Regions from separate parts of the Homo sapiens genome. Here region 2 is linked to region 1. The links come from fine-mapping of genetic effects on gene expression. A gene starts in region 1. The other region holds a variant in brackets. All regions are shown on one strand. Distances are between the middles of the regions.

What was found. PIP is the estimated chance that this variant, and not a neighbour inherited with it, causes the effect. A credible set is the group of variants that fine-mapping cannot tell apart.
Region 2: its variant is the best candidate, but not a certain one, in a credible set for the expression of GMDS in whole blood (TOPMed, PIP 0.55).

Annotation. Positions count from the first base shown.
Region 1 is chr6:2,243,067-2,248,445 of GRCh38, forward strand. GMDS (GDP-mannose 4,6-dehydratase) reads right to left here and starts at 2,539. Exons shown (of 11, transcript NM_001500.4): 1 at 2,255-2,539. The coding sequence starts at 2,356. GMDS-DT (GMDS divergent transcript) reads left to right here and starts at 2,687. Exons shown (of 7, transcript NR_046229.1): 1 at 2,687-2,864. RefSeq lists an enhancer at 2,181-2,681 and a silencer at 2,182-2,811.
Region 2 is chr6:2,264,879-2,270,257 of GRCh38, forward strand. The region is part of intron 3 of GMDS-DT (GMDS divergent transcript); the gene reads left to right. Among named protein-coding and RNA genes, the nearest start is that of GMDS-DT, 22 kb to the left of the region's middle. The variant C/T (reference allele first, on the strand shown) is at 2,305.

The DNA of each region.
Region 1 (5,379 bases):
GCAACACCAAATGAGGAGACAATGCAGAGGGCAGATGCCGGAGGGAAGAAAGAAACACTGGGGCAGAGATTCAACCCAACCTGAAAGCCATGCAGGTGTTTTAAGTTGGAAATGAAATGAGGAACCAAAAAATTCCAGTCAGGGAGTGGTCTGCTGAGTGTGGTGCTTCAGGTAGACTCCCATGACAGGCTGCAGGACAAACTAGAGTGGGGGCCCACTTCCATACCTTCCTGGCCACTCAGTTCCAGCCAAATGACTGCTCTTAAAAGTCAAAATTAGGTTCCATTTCTAATCTGCACTGATTCATACTGCTGGTCGTGTAAATTGGTATAGGCCACACCAACACAGCACATTAGTTAAGATGTTAATCTTAACTAATTTCCGGACAATACTAAAATAAAATCTCTACTTTCCAGAGATTAGGTAAACTTGGTAAACATTTGAGCTTCAGGTCCAGTCTGACAAAATGGAAAAAAGGGAATCATCTGCAGAAAGGTCCCAGCATTAGAAAACAAAGAGAAGGGGGAGGACAGTATGTAGGCCCTGACCTGTCTTACTGCCTCAATTCAAGGATTCAATTTCTCAACCTCAGATCCTTGCCCTCTTACTAGTTTTCAAACTCAGATCCACCTCTTACTAGTTTTCAAACTCTTGTCTATTATGATTACCTTAAGCAAAGCAAGATGCATGAATAACCAGCAGTAAATCAGGTATTCAATACTTGAAATTGTGTAATATTCTGTGACTGTGCATCTGGCCAATTTCAACTTCTCCTTCTTTTTTTTTTTTTTTTTTTTTTTTTTTTTTTTTGAGGCAGGATCTCACTCTCTTGCCCCAGGCTGGAGTACAGTGGTACCATCATTGCTCACTGCAGCAGCCTCAGACTCCCGGACTCAAGTGATCCTCCTGCCTCAGCCTCCTGAGTAGCTAGCACTACAGGTGAGCACCAACATGCCTGCCTCATTTTTTAAATTTTTTTGTAGAGACAACGTCTCAATATGTTGCCCAGGCTGGTCTCAAACTCCTGGCCTCACCTCGAGCAATCCTTCCACCTCTGCACACCGAAGTGCTGAGATTTCAAGTATGAGCCGCTGCCTCCTGCCCACTTAGCCCTTTCTAACACTAGAGAACTTTGAGAGTGGTTTCAATACCAACTGGACACTTCCCAGCGGTTTAACCTCAGGCAAATCAAACTCCCATGCCTCAGTTTCCACATATATAGAGATAATAAAAGTACCTCCTCAAAGAGTTTGTTATGAGAACTAAATGAGTTAATGTTAGGCAAGCGACTGGAACATGATAGACACAATATGTATTAGCCATTATCACCTTTATCTCAGTGTTATATTGGCCACCACCCAGAGATACCCAGGAGCACACACATCACATTCTTTCTACAGCAATATGTGGGCACGATTACTTCATGACCACTGAATCTAAAACAGCACAGCTTGGTAAGACACAGCGGTCGGATCCCACCTACTGCAACACCTCTAAGAGGCGACCCTCACAAACCAGCCATGCTTAGCCTGAGACATTCCGAAGACCTCCTCTTGATTACCTTACTCGACGAACTTATTCCTTTGAAAATGGAACTAGCCGCACTTTTGGACCAGTGTGCCTCGGATACACTTCCAAATGTGTCAACCTGAATCTCAGAAGTTGGCGTGATTTTAAAAAGTTTTTTAAGTTCTTTTTCCTAAACATGTCCTAGTAGGTGACTCCACAGCATTACTTTCTTTCATGTTCTCTTTTCTATCTGGAAATCCGGTGATAGGGGACGAAACCAGCAAAGCACCCTTTTTCTTGCTTCCCAAACGTTAGCAGGTAAGCGCCCCTTGAGCCGAGACACATCAAGAAGACCTCACCCGCAAGTTCATTGATCACCGGTTCTTTTCCCTTTCCGGCACTAGGAGCTGCGAAGCACGACATGGGCTTGGAGGAAGAGACGCTGCGGTCACCTGAGGGGCAGGTGAGAGCGGGCGGTCCTGCCCGGGTGTGAGCGCGACATCCCGCGCGGCACACACGCTCACAGCCCCCAGAGAAAGACCAGAGGCGCTCGATGTATCCCGCACACCCCACACGCAACACACTAACTGCACCGTACCTTCCGTCCCACCTCCCGGCAGCAGACCCCTTCCGGGACGCCGAGAGGGCTGTTCCTGGAGAGACCGCAGCCCACGAGTAGCGGCGCGTAGGGAGAGCACGCGTGCCCAGGCTGCCTCGGCCGGCGCGCCCCCGCCCCCGCACTCACCTGGCCTGTGATACCGGTGATGAGCGCCACGTTCCTGGGCTTGCCCATCTCGCCGTCCCCGGAGCCCCGGGCGCTGGGGCAGCGTGCCGGTGCGTGTGCCATGTCCCGCGGCGGGCGTGCGGTCGGCGGCAGGGCGGAGCGCGGCAGAGGGCAGGCGCGGTGCCGGCAGGAACGCGGGGGTGTGCAGCACGAAGCGCCTCTCCAGGCTGCGGGCAGGGAGGGAGAGCGCACCGCGCGACCGGCCGCCACAGTCTGACAGGGGCGCACGGGAGGCCGTGCAGGGAGGGCCGGGGGCGGGCCGAGCCGGCCAAGGCGGGCCCGACGGGCCAAGCAGCGGGGCTGCGGCCTGACTGGCGCAGCGTCATTCGCGTCAGCCGGCGACGCTGTAGCAGGCCCCGCCCCTCCGCCGACGGCCACCGCGCGGGAGGGGCGGGGCCTGCCGCCGCCACCGCCTCAGGGAAGAGGAAGGAGGCCGCGGCTTCGCGTCCCGCCTCTCGCCTGGCTGGCCGTGGGGGGCCTGGACGCAGTGGCCTCCCGAATCTCCCAGGACCCTAATATCGCCCGAGGATGCTGGGAGGAACGCTGAGCCGACCTCTCCGTTAGGCTGAAGGTCTGAATTTTCAAACCCAGGGGTCACAGGGCCGGGGTCATGGACTTTGATAAATAATTCCTGGAAACCTGTTGCAGTGCCCTTTGAGAAGCCCGGTTTATGGTACCTGAAGGGCAGTAGCGTACAAGGCCCGTAAACGGGGGTCACAGATGTGGGAGTGACTAACTAGGCTGGCTCTCGCTCTTCTGGCCTTTCCTGAGGCTCGGAACCAGTAACGAGGTTCCAAATAGCTGAATTCAAAGTTTTCTCTTCTGAGGACTGCCAGTGCACAAGAAAGTCCCTAGCCCCACCCGTATGCGGCATAAGGAAATGTTGAAAAGACTGCCCGGGTCAATAAACCTGGACGTGGCAGATTTCAAAGAAAGTAATTCAAACACAGGTGGGGTCCCGGCTTACATCTGTTGGATTTGGCTGCCATTTGGCAGCTGCTCGTTGGACAGGGAGAGGAGAGGAGGTGACTCAGAGCCGGGAGGGCAGCAGGTGTGTGTGCCTAAGCAGTTGGCTGCAATCCAGGACACAGACGGAAACTTCCCGGTCTCCGTTGCTCTGCTTCTCTGTCCACATTCCTCTCCCTAATCGATAACTTCAGATCATCATTTCAAATCACAGAGTTACTAGGGCTGTGCCCAATATAACGTGCAAGAGTATGTATAGCAGACCTGGAACCCCAAAATCAGAAAAGCTCAGGATTACATTTAAAACCTCCCTCTCGCGCTCCTCGAGGTCCGTTAGGAATATTTCTTAGCTATAGATAGACTGGTCTGGTTTCACACCTGGCCTCTCCTCTGCGTTCTATGAGGAGAATGGCTCAACAAACATCTGATGGTGCCTCTGAGTGATGAAGAGACCCTGAAGCTGAGGAGAGGGAACACTTCCATTGAGAGGAACATGCTATAAGCTAGAAATGTCTGTGAAATATACGGGAATATGCTAAAACTATACTCATTTTCATGTAAATACGCTTTAAATTAATGCATGAGCCAATTATTTAACATTTTCCTTAAAAAAATCACTGAGCAAGCCGGGCGCAGTGGCTCACGCCTGTAATCCCAGCACTTTGGGAAGCTGCGGCAGGTGGATCACCTGAGGTCAGGAGTTCAAGACCAGCCTGGCCAACACGGTGAAAACCCGTCTCTACTAAAAATACAAAAAATTAGCCAGGCGTGGTGGTGGGCACCTGTAATCCCAGCTACTCTGGAGGCTGAGGCAGAAGAATCGCTTGAACCCGGGAGGAGGAGGTTGCAGTGAGCCGAGATCTTGCCATTGCGTTCCAGCCTGGGCAAGAAGAGCAAAACTCCATCTCAAAAAAAAAAAAAAAAAATCACTGAGCAAAACTGATACTTATGGGAGATATGACACATTTATCCTGTAGTTTTGAGACCTCCTATCACACAAACACTGGAAGTTGACACCAGTCAATTTCCTGTCACACCACCAAACACCTGCCCTAGAAGTGTGTGACAGTAGAAGAAAAATGGAAAAAAAATCAACATTATTAGGGCCTGAAAATATTTATAAAATGATGGGAAATGGTAGGTCAGAGGAAGCTTGAAGAATAAAGGCTATTTCTCTAGAGAACTTTTCTGAAGACAGGTGGTAGGTCTGCTACAGCAACGTACCATCCATAGGGTGACAAACGATAGAAATTTATTTCCTCACAGTTCTGGAGACTGGAAGTTTAGGATCAAGGGCTGATTTCTTCTGAGGCCTCTCTCCTTTTCTTGTAGCTGGCTGTCTTCATGTTCACATGGCGTTCTCTCTGTATGTGTGTCTGTGTCCAAACTTCCTGTTCTTATAAGAACACCAGTTACATTTGATTAGGACCCTCTTTAATGACCTTATTTCCAAATACAGTCACATTTTGAGCTACTAAGAGTTAAGACATCAATATATTAATTGGGGGAGGGACAAAATTCAACCCATGATTGACAGCTAGAGGGAAAAAGAGGTTCTTTTTTTTAACTGTTTGTGGGCTCGGAGGGAGGAGGTTGGTAGTGGAGGTTGTTGTCATTTTCCCAGTAGCATTAGGGCAACTTGAACAACGTCAGCACAGGGTCTGGGGCAGCATAAGAAGATTACATTAACTAGAAGTAAAGCGACCAGCGGTAGTGGAAAGCTCTAAGGGTGATGGCTCAGTTGTGTTTTCCTCTAACACAGTTCTCATCCCTGGGTGATTTTGCCCCCAGGGGACATTTGACAATGTCTGGAGGCATTTTTGATTGTCACAAATGGAGTTGTGCTATAGGTATCTAATGAGTAGAGGTTAAGTATTTTGCTCACCATCTGCAGTGCACAGGAAGCTCCCACAACAAAGATTTTTCTAGCCCAAAATGTCAATAGTGCTGAGGCTGAGTAACCCTTCTCCAGGAGGCCAGTGAAAGATGTTAACAAGCGGGTGGTTGAACTGACAGACACTGGCTATACTATACAGTGACTTCATGGTATGTCAGAAGAAGCAAATACATTTGGTAGCTAATTGTTGATGCTGATACCTTTACTCACAAACTTGGCTAAT
Region 2 (5,379 bases), 22 kb after region 1:
TTCATCTGCTACTGGGGTCTGGCTCTTACACCTGTATGAACATGTGTAGAGCCTAGGTAGGACCATCCTATGAATGAATGTTCAGGAGTCACCCATCCCCATGAATGGAAACTAGGACTGATGGAACTAGGTATTTCCTGAACACTCAAAGTGGATCAACCTAATAGTGAACAAAACCACATCTGACAAGGAGAAGGCATAGGGACTACCTAGTGTTAGGAAACAGTCCCCGATTTCTGACTCATCCTGCTATAAGCCAACTTCTTTCCCACAAGACAGTACAGGACACAGCCTACAGGAGGAAATAGAAGTCCTGATCTTTCTCTTTCAGTATCCTGTGCTGTCAGAGGTCACTTTAGCTAGGCTTAAAAACCAGAAGGAAAAGAATTTCAGGATGGCAAAGGGATGGGCATGGTAGTGGTAAGACGATGAGGTGTGAGGGGCAGAGGAATAAGAAATTTAATGGTTTTTATTCAGACTTTATTATTTGGGCATGAGCCATTGGTGATTAACTCAATCTCCAGCCCCTTTGCCCTCCCTGAAGGTTGGGGAGGCAGGAAGTCCATCCCTCTGATCATGCCTTGGTCTCCATTCCCCAAACCCCATCCTGAAGCTATCTAGGGCCCCCAATACCGAGTCATTTCATTAGAGAAGGACATTCATCACTCCAGAAATTCCAAGGGTCTTAGAAGCTCTTGTGTTAGAAACTGGGGACTAAGACCAAATATTATAACAAAAAGATGTTCCCAGCATTCCTATCATCCAGGCAGTTACAAAGGTTTTTGGAACTCTGTGTCAGGAATCAGGAGCAGAGACCAGGTATCTATTTCTTGTCATGTCCCACAAGAGGATGCAGAAAATCTGGGATTGTAACTGTTGATGGTTATGTAATCTCAGGAAACTTCTTTGTCCTCCATTGCTTCACAATTAAATGGGGCAGATATGCCTCCCCTCTCTCACTCTATTTCCTGAGCACACATTCCAGAATCTCAGCAAACTCTAGAGACAAAGACACAGCCCTGGCCCCCAGGGAGCAAGGTCTTAGGGTGCTGGAGAAAATTATCGTTTTTGTTCCCTTCCAATAGTGAAATCTATGATCATTAAAAAAATACAGTATACCTCCTAATTAAGCCAAGTTTCCCTTCTCATTTTAGTTATCAGGAATTTAAATCAATCAAGGCATAAATTGGACCAAACATTATTACCACTGTTCATTGATATCCTTAACTAAGAACGTTACTGAAACTTTCCCTTAATACTTATTATATATCTTCCAAGTCAATCCTGAGAAAATCCATAAAGCTCATCTCAGGGCGAAAGCTTGTACATTTAAGTAACAGGATTCCAAATAAACAATATTGCTGAGTTAACTAAAAATACATTAACTAAAAATAAATCTCATCTAAAATATTAAAAATGGATATTTTTAAAATGCTTTTTATTTTTTAAGTGTTCCTGGTTAAATGTGGCATCTAAGAATGGTTTTTGCAACTTATAAAAAGCTGCTGCCTATCTTTTTAAAAATCCCTGCCAAAAAAATCACATAAATGGTGAATTTATAAAATGTCATACAATTGAATTCATATAATGGCAATGAGAATAAGTAAAAGGAAAAAATTATAAAGCATTTACTCACAATAGTATACATTCCGTTCAACTATGCTGGGAATTCCATTTATGTATTCAAAGTTTCTATTAACTTCTTTGGAATCCAGCATAAACCTTTGATAGTATTTATAAAAAATTTTAAAATGTGAAATGGCAAAATGGAAAGAGAGCATTCAAAGAGAAAGGAAATTCTTGGTCAGTTAAAACATTTCACACCTCCCTAACTGCCTTTCTCTGCTTCTTGATTCAAAGTTCTAAGGCAAGTAAACACTAGAAATTAGTGTTTCCTTTAAAAAGCCTTCTTGGGTTATGCCAAATCAAAAAAAAAAAAAAAAAAAAAAAGACATCTTAATTCACACTGTTGAAAAAACAGAGCATCTCCAAAGTTACCAGCTGTACATTTTACTTCTTTGAACGCACCCAGAACACATTGCAAAGATATTCAGCAAATGCCTACTGAATTGAATCTTGATGAGAAACAGATAATTCTGTTCTTCTATTAGTTTTATTTTATGGGGGTAGCTTAAAAATTAATCAATTTAGATGATGACATTCAAGGTCAGGAATGTTATTCCTTCTTCCTCACTCTATATTCCTGGAAGCCTTTTACAGCTTATTGTATTCAGTATTCCTCCTTGCATAAAATATAGACTAGTCACCAGAATTCCTATAAAAATGAAAAGCAAAAACAAGTGC[C/T]CCTATTAAAAGTTTTAAGAAGTCATTTTGTCAAGAGAAAAGCCTTCTTTAATGTTCTCTTCAAGTCTAATCAAGGGCTTTGAGAAAAATGCTGAGCAGTTTCCTTTTTTCTAAAGTTCAAGGAAGACAAAAGAGACAAATTTACATTTTGATTGAACGTTTTATTTATTCAGCCTTCACTCAGCAAATATTTATTAGTGTCCACTGTATACCAGGCACTGTGATAACTACTTGTTACTGCTGGGTGAGCTGCTAGAGTGAGCTACTAAAGAAGTGTATAATATGAACCACTACAGATTGTCGATGAGATGTGTGAGCACTCTGTCTCTTGGAGGGGCAATGGGAAAATAGGAGATGGAACTAGGTAAAACTCAAAGTGGCCCTTACCTCTCTCACTCTAACTCCATGCTCATCACAAATTTCAAGATCAAAAACTTTGGGAGGCCGAGGTGGGTGGATCATTTAAGATCAGGAGTTCGAGACCAGCCTGGTCAACATGGTGAAACCCCAACCTAAGCCCCATCAGGTGAACACCTAACATTAACCACCGCATTGGTTCCAAGAGTGAGGATGGGGGAGGGGTGTTGAGAGTTTAAGGAAGGGGAGTGAGAGTCATCTAGGAGAGTAGAAGAGAGAACAGACTGGGGAAATGGGCTGGCAACACTCAAGTATAACTTGGTTAATCATCTTGTACTTAAAGTAATAGTTACAAGCTTTTCTTGGGCTATGTACAACTGCATGGTGAAGGCAGAGAGTTGGATTTAACCAAGACTGTGACTTTGGTGAGGATGTATGACCAAAAGAGAGAGGAGGGGGGTATATGGAAGAGATTGCTTGTATGGATGAAGCATGGAATAACCGTGGCAAGGAGAGAAATAACGAGATGAGGGGTGAGGGACAGTGAGGTGGAGGATGGATCAATGTGTTGTGGGTCCTGCAATGGTAGAAAGACCATCAAGGTGCTTGAGGGAGTGAGGAGGAAAATAGGAAATAGTGGCTGGAGAGTGGTTACTTGAAACTGAGTTTATGGCAAGGATGTAGAGGGGTGTGTGTGTGTGTGTGTGTGTGTGTGTGTGTGTGTGTTCCGTAATGGGAATGTCTAAGGTATAATCATGGAAGTCAAGCTTTTTGGAGGTGGGGAGAGAACTGAGGGGGCCAGGACACTGGATGGATCACCAGATGCTGAAATCACTAAGTCTTGTTGGAGTGACAAGGAACTAGAAGTGCCAAGCAGTGACTAGGGTCAGTCAAGGATAGCAACCACAAGAGCAAGTGGGTGGTACGACCTGCTGGCATGGGACACAGAGCCAGGAGGGCCTTGGGAGTGGGGAAGAAGAGGGAAACAGGCACCACTGGAGAGAACTGCGGGGGGCAGGAGTGCCCCAGGTCAGAGCCAGGTTTCAGCAAGACCAGGCAGGTGATGGGGATGTTCAGGAAAAAGTGGAGGATGTGAGGGATTCTACCGAGGACTGACTGTGTCTTCCAGACCAGAGTGTCTCAAACTTTAATGTGCAGCCATGTCGCCTGGGGAGTCCTGTTAAAATGCACATTCTGATTCCGCAGGTCTTGGGTGGAGCCCAGGTCTCTGCATTTCTTTTTTTTAATTATTACCATTTTACTTTAAGTTCTGAGATACAGTGTCTCTGCATTTCTAACAAGGTCCCAGGTGATGCTGCTGCTGGTCTTTGGACTACACTCAGAGCACCGAGGTCCCATGTGGGAACTACCAGCACATACAGCTACTGAGCACTGAAAATGTGGCTCATTTGAATTGGGATGTGCCAGAAGTATAAAATGCACACTGCATTTTCAGGCCAATAAAAGAATATAAAATGTCTTATTAATAATTTCTTGGGTGAGTGCAGTGTCTCAGGCCTGTAATCCCAGCACTTTGGGAGGCCAAGGTGGGAGGATCACTTGAGCTCTGGAGTTTGAGACCAACCTGAGCAACACAGCAATACCCCATCTCTACTAAAAATCAAAAAAACTAGCTGGCCATGGTGATGCATACCTGTGGCCCCACTACTCAGGAGGCTGAGGCAGGAGGATCACTTGAACTCAGGAAAGTGAGACTGCAGTGAGGTATGATCGTGACACTGCACTGAGCCACTGCACTCAACTTAGTTTAGGCTGCTATAACAGATTGCCATAGACTGGGTGGCTTAAACAACACATGTTTTTTCTCACAGCTTTGGAGGCTGTAAGTCCAGTTTCAAGGAGTCAGCATCATGGGATCTGATAAGAAGCCTCTTCCAAGTTGTAGACTGCTGATTTCCAGTTGTATCCTCACATGGTGGAATGACAGCCAGATAATTCTCTAGGGTCCCTTTCACAAAGGCATTAATCCCATTCATGAGGCTTCTACTCTCATGACCTAATCTCCCAAAGGCCCCACCTCCATGGACCATCACATTGGGGGTTAGGATTTGATCTTATGAATTTGGGGGTGATATAAACATTCAGTCCACCCATAGAAATTATTGTTATTGAGACAGCATCTCGCTCTGTTGCACAGGCTGGCTGGAGTGCAGTGGTGCAATCATGGCTCACTGCAACCTCAAATTCCTGGGCTCAAGGGATCCTCCTGCCTCAGCCTCCCAAGTAGCTAGGACTACAGGTATGTGCCACCACTCCCAACTAATTTTTTTATTTTTTGTAGAGACGAGATCTAACTTTGTTGCCCAGGCTGGTATTGAACTCTTGGGTTCAAGTAATCCTCCTGCCTCAGTCTCCTAAAGTGCTAGGGTTATAGATGTGAGCCACTGTACCCAGCCAGGTTGTATATTGAAATAATAATTTCTTAATATATTGAATTAAAATATATTTAAGGCAATTTTATCTGTTTCTTTTTACTTTTTAAATGTGGTTACTGGATAATTTGAAATTATATATATGACTGTCATATATAAGACAAAGGAAATGTAAGAGATTTCCTTTGGACAACACTATTCTCAAGGGTACTTGGGAAAGGTTTCCAGAGCTTAAAAGACGGAGAAATAAAGTCAGATAGAAGGATGTATGGGGAAGCATGCAGGTCAGAGTCCAGGAGAGGCCTGGGCCCTGGGCCACGTCACA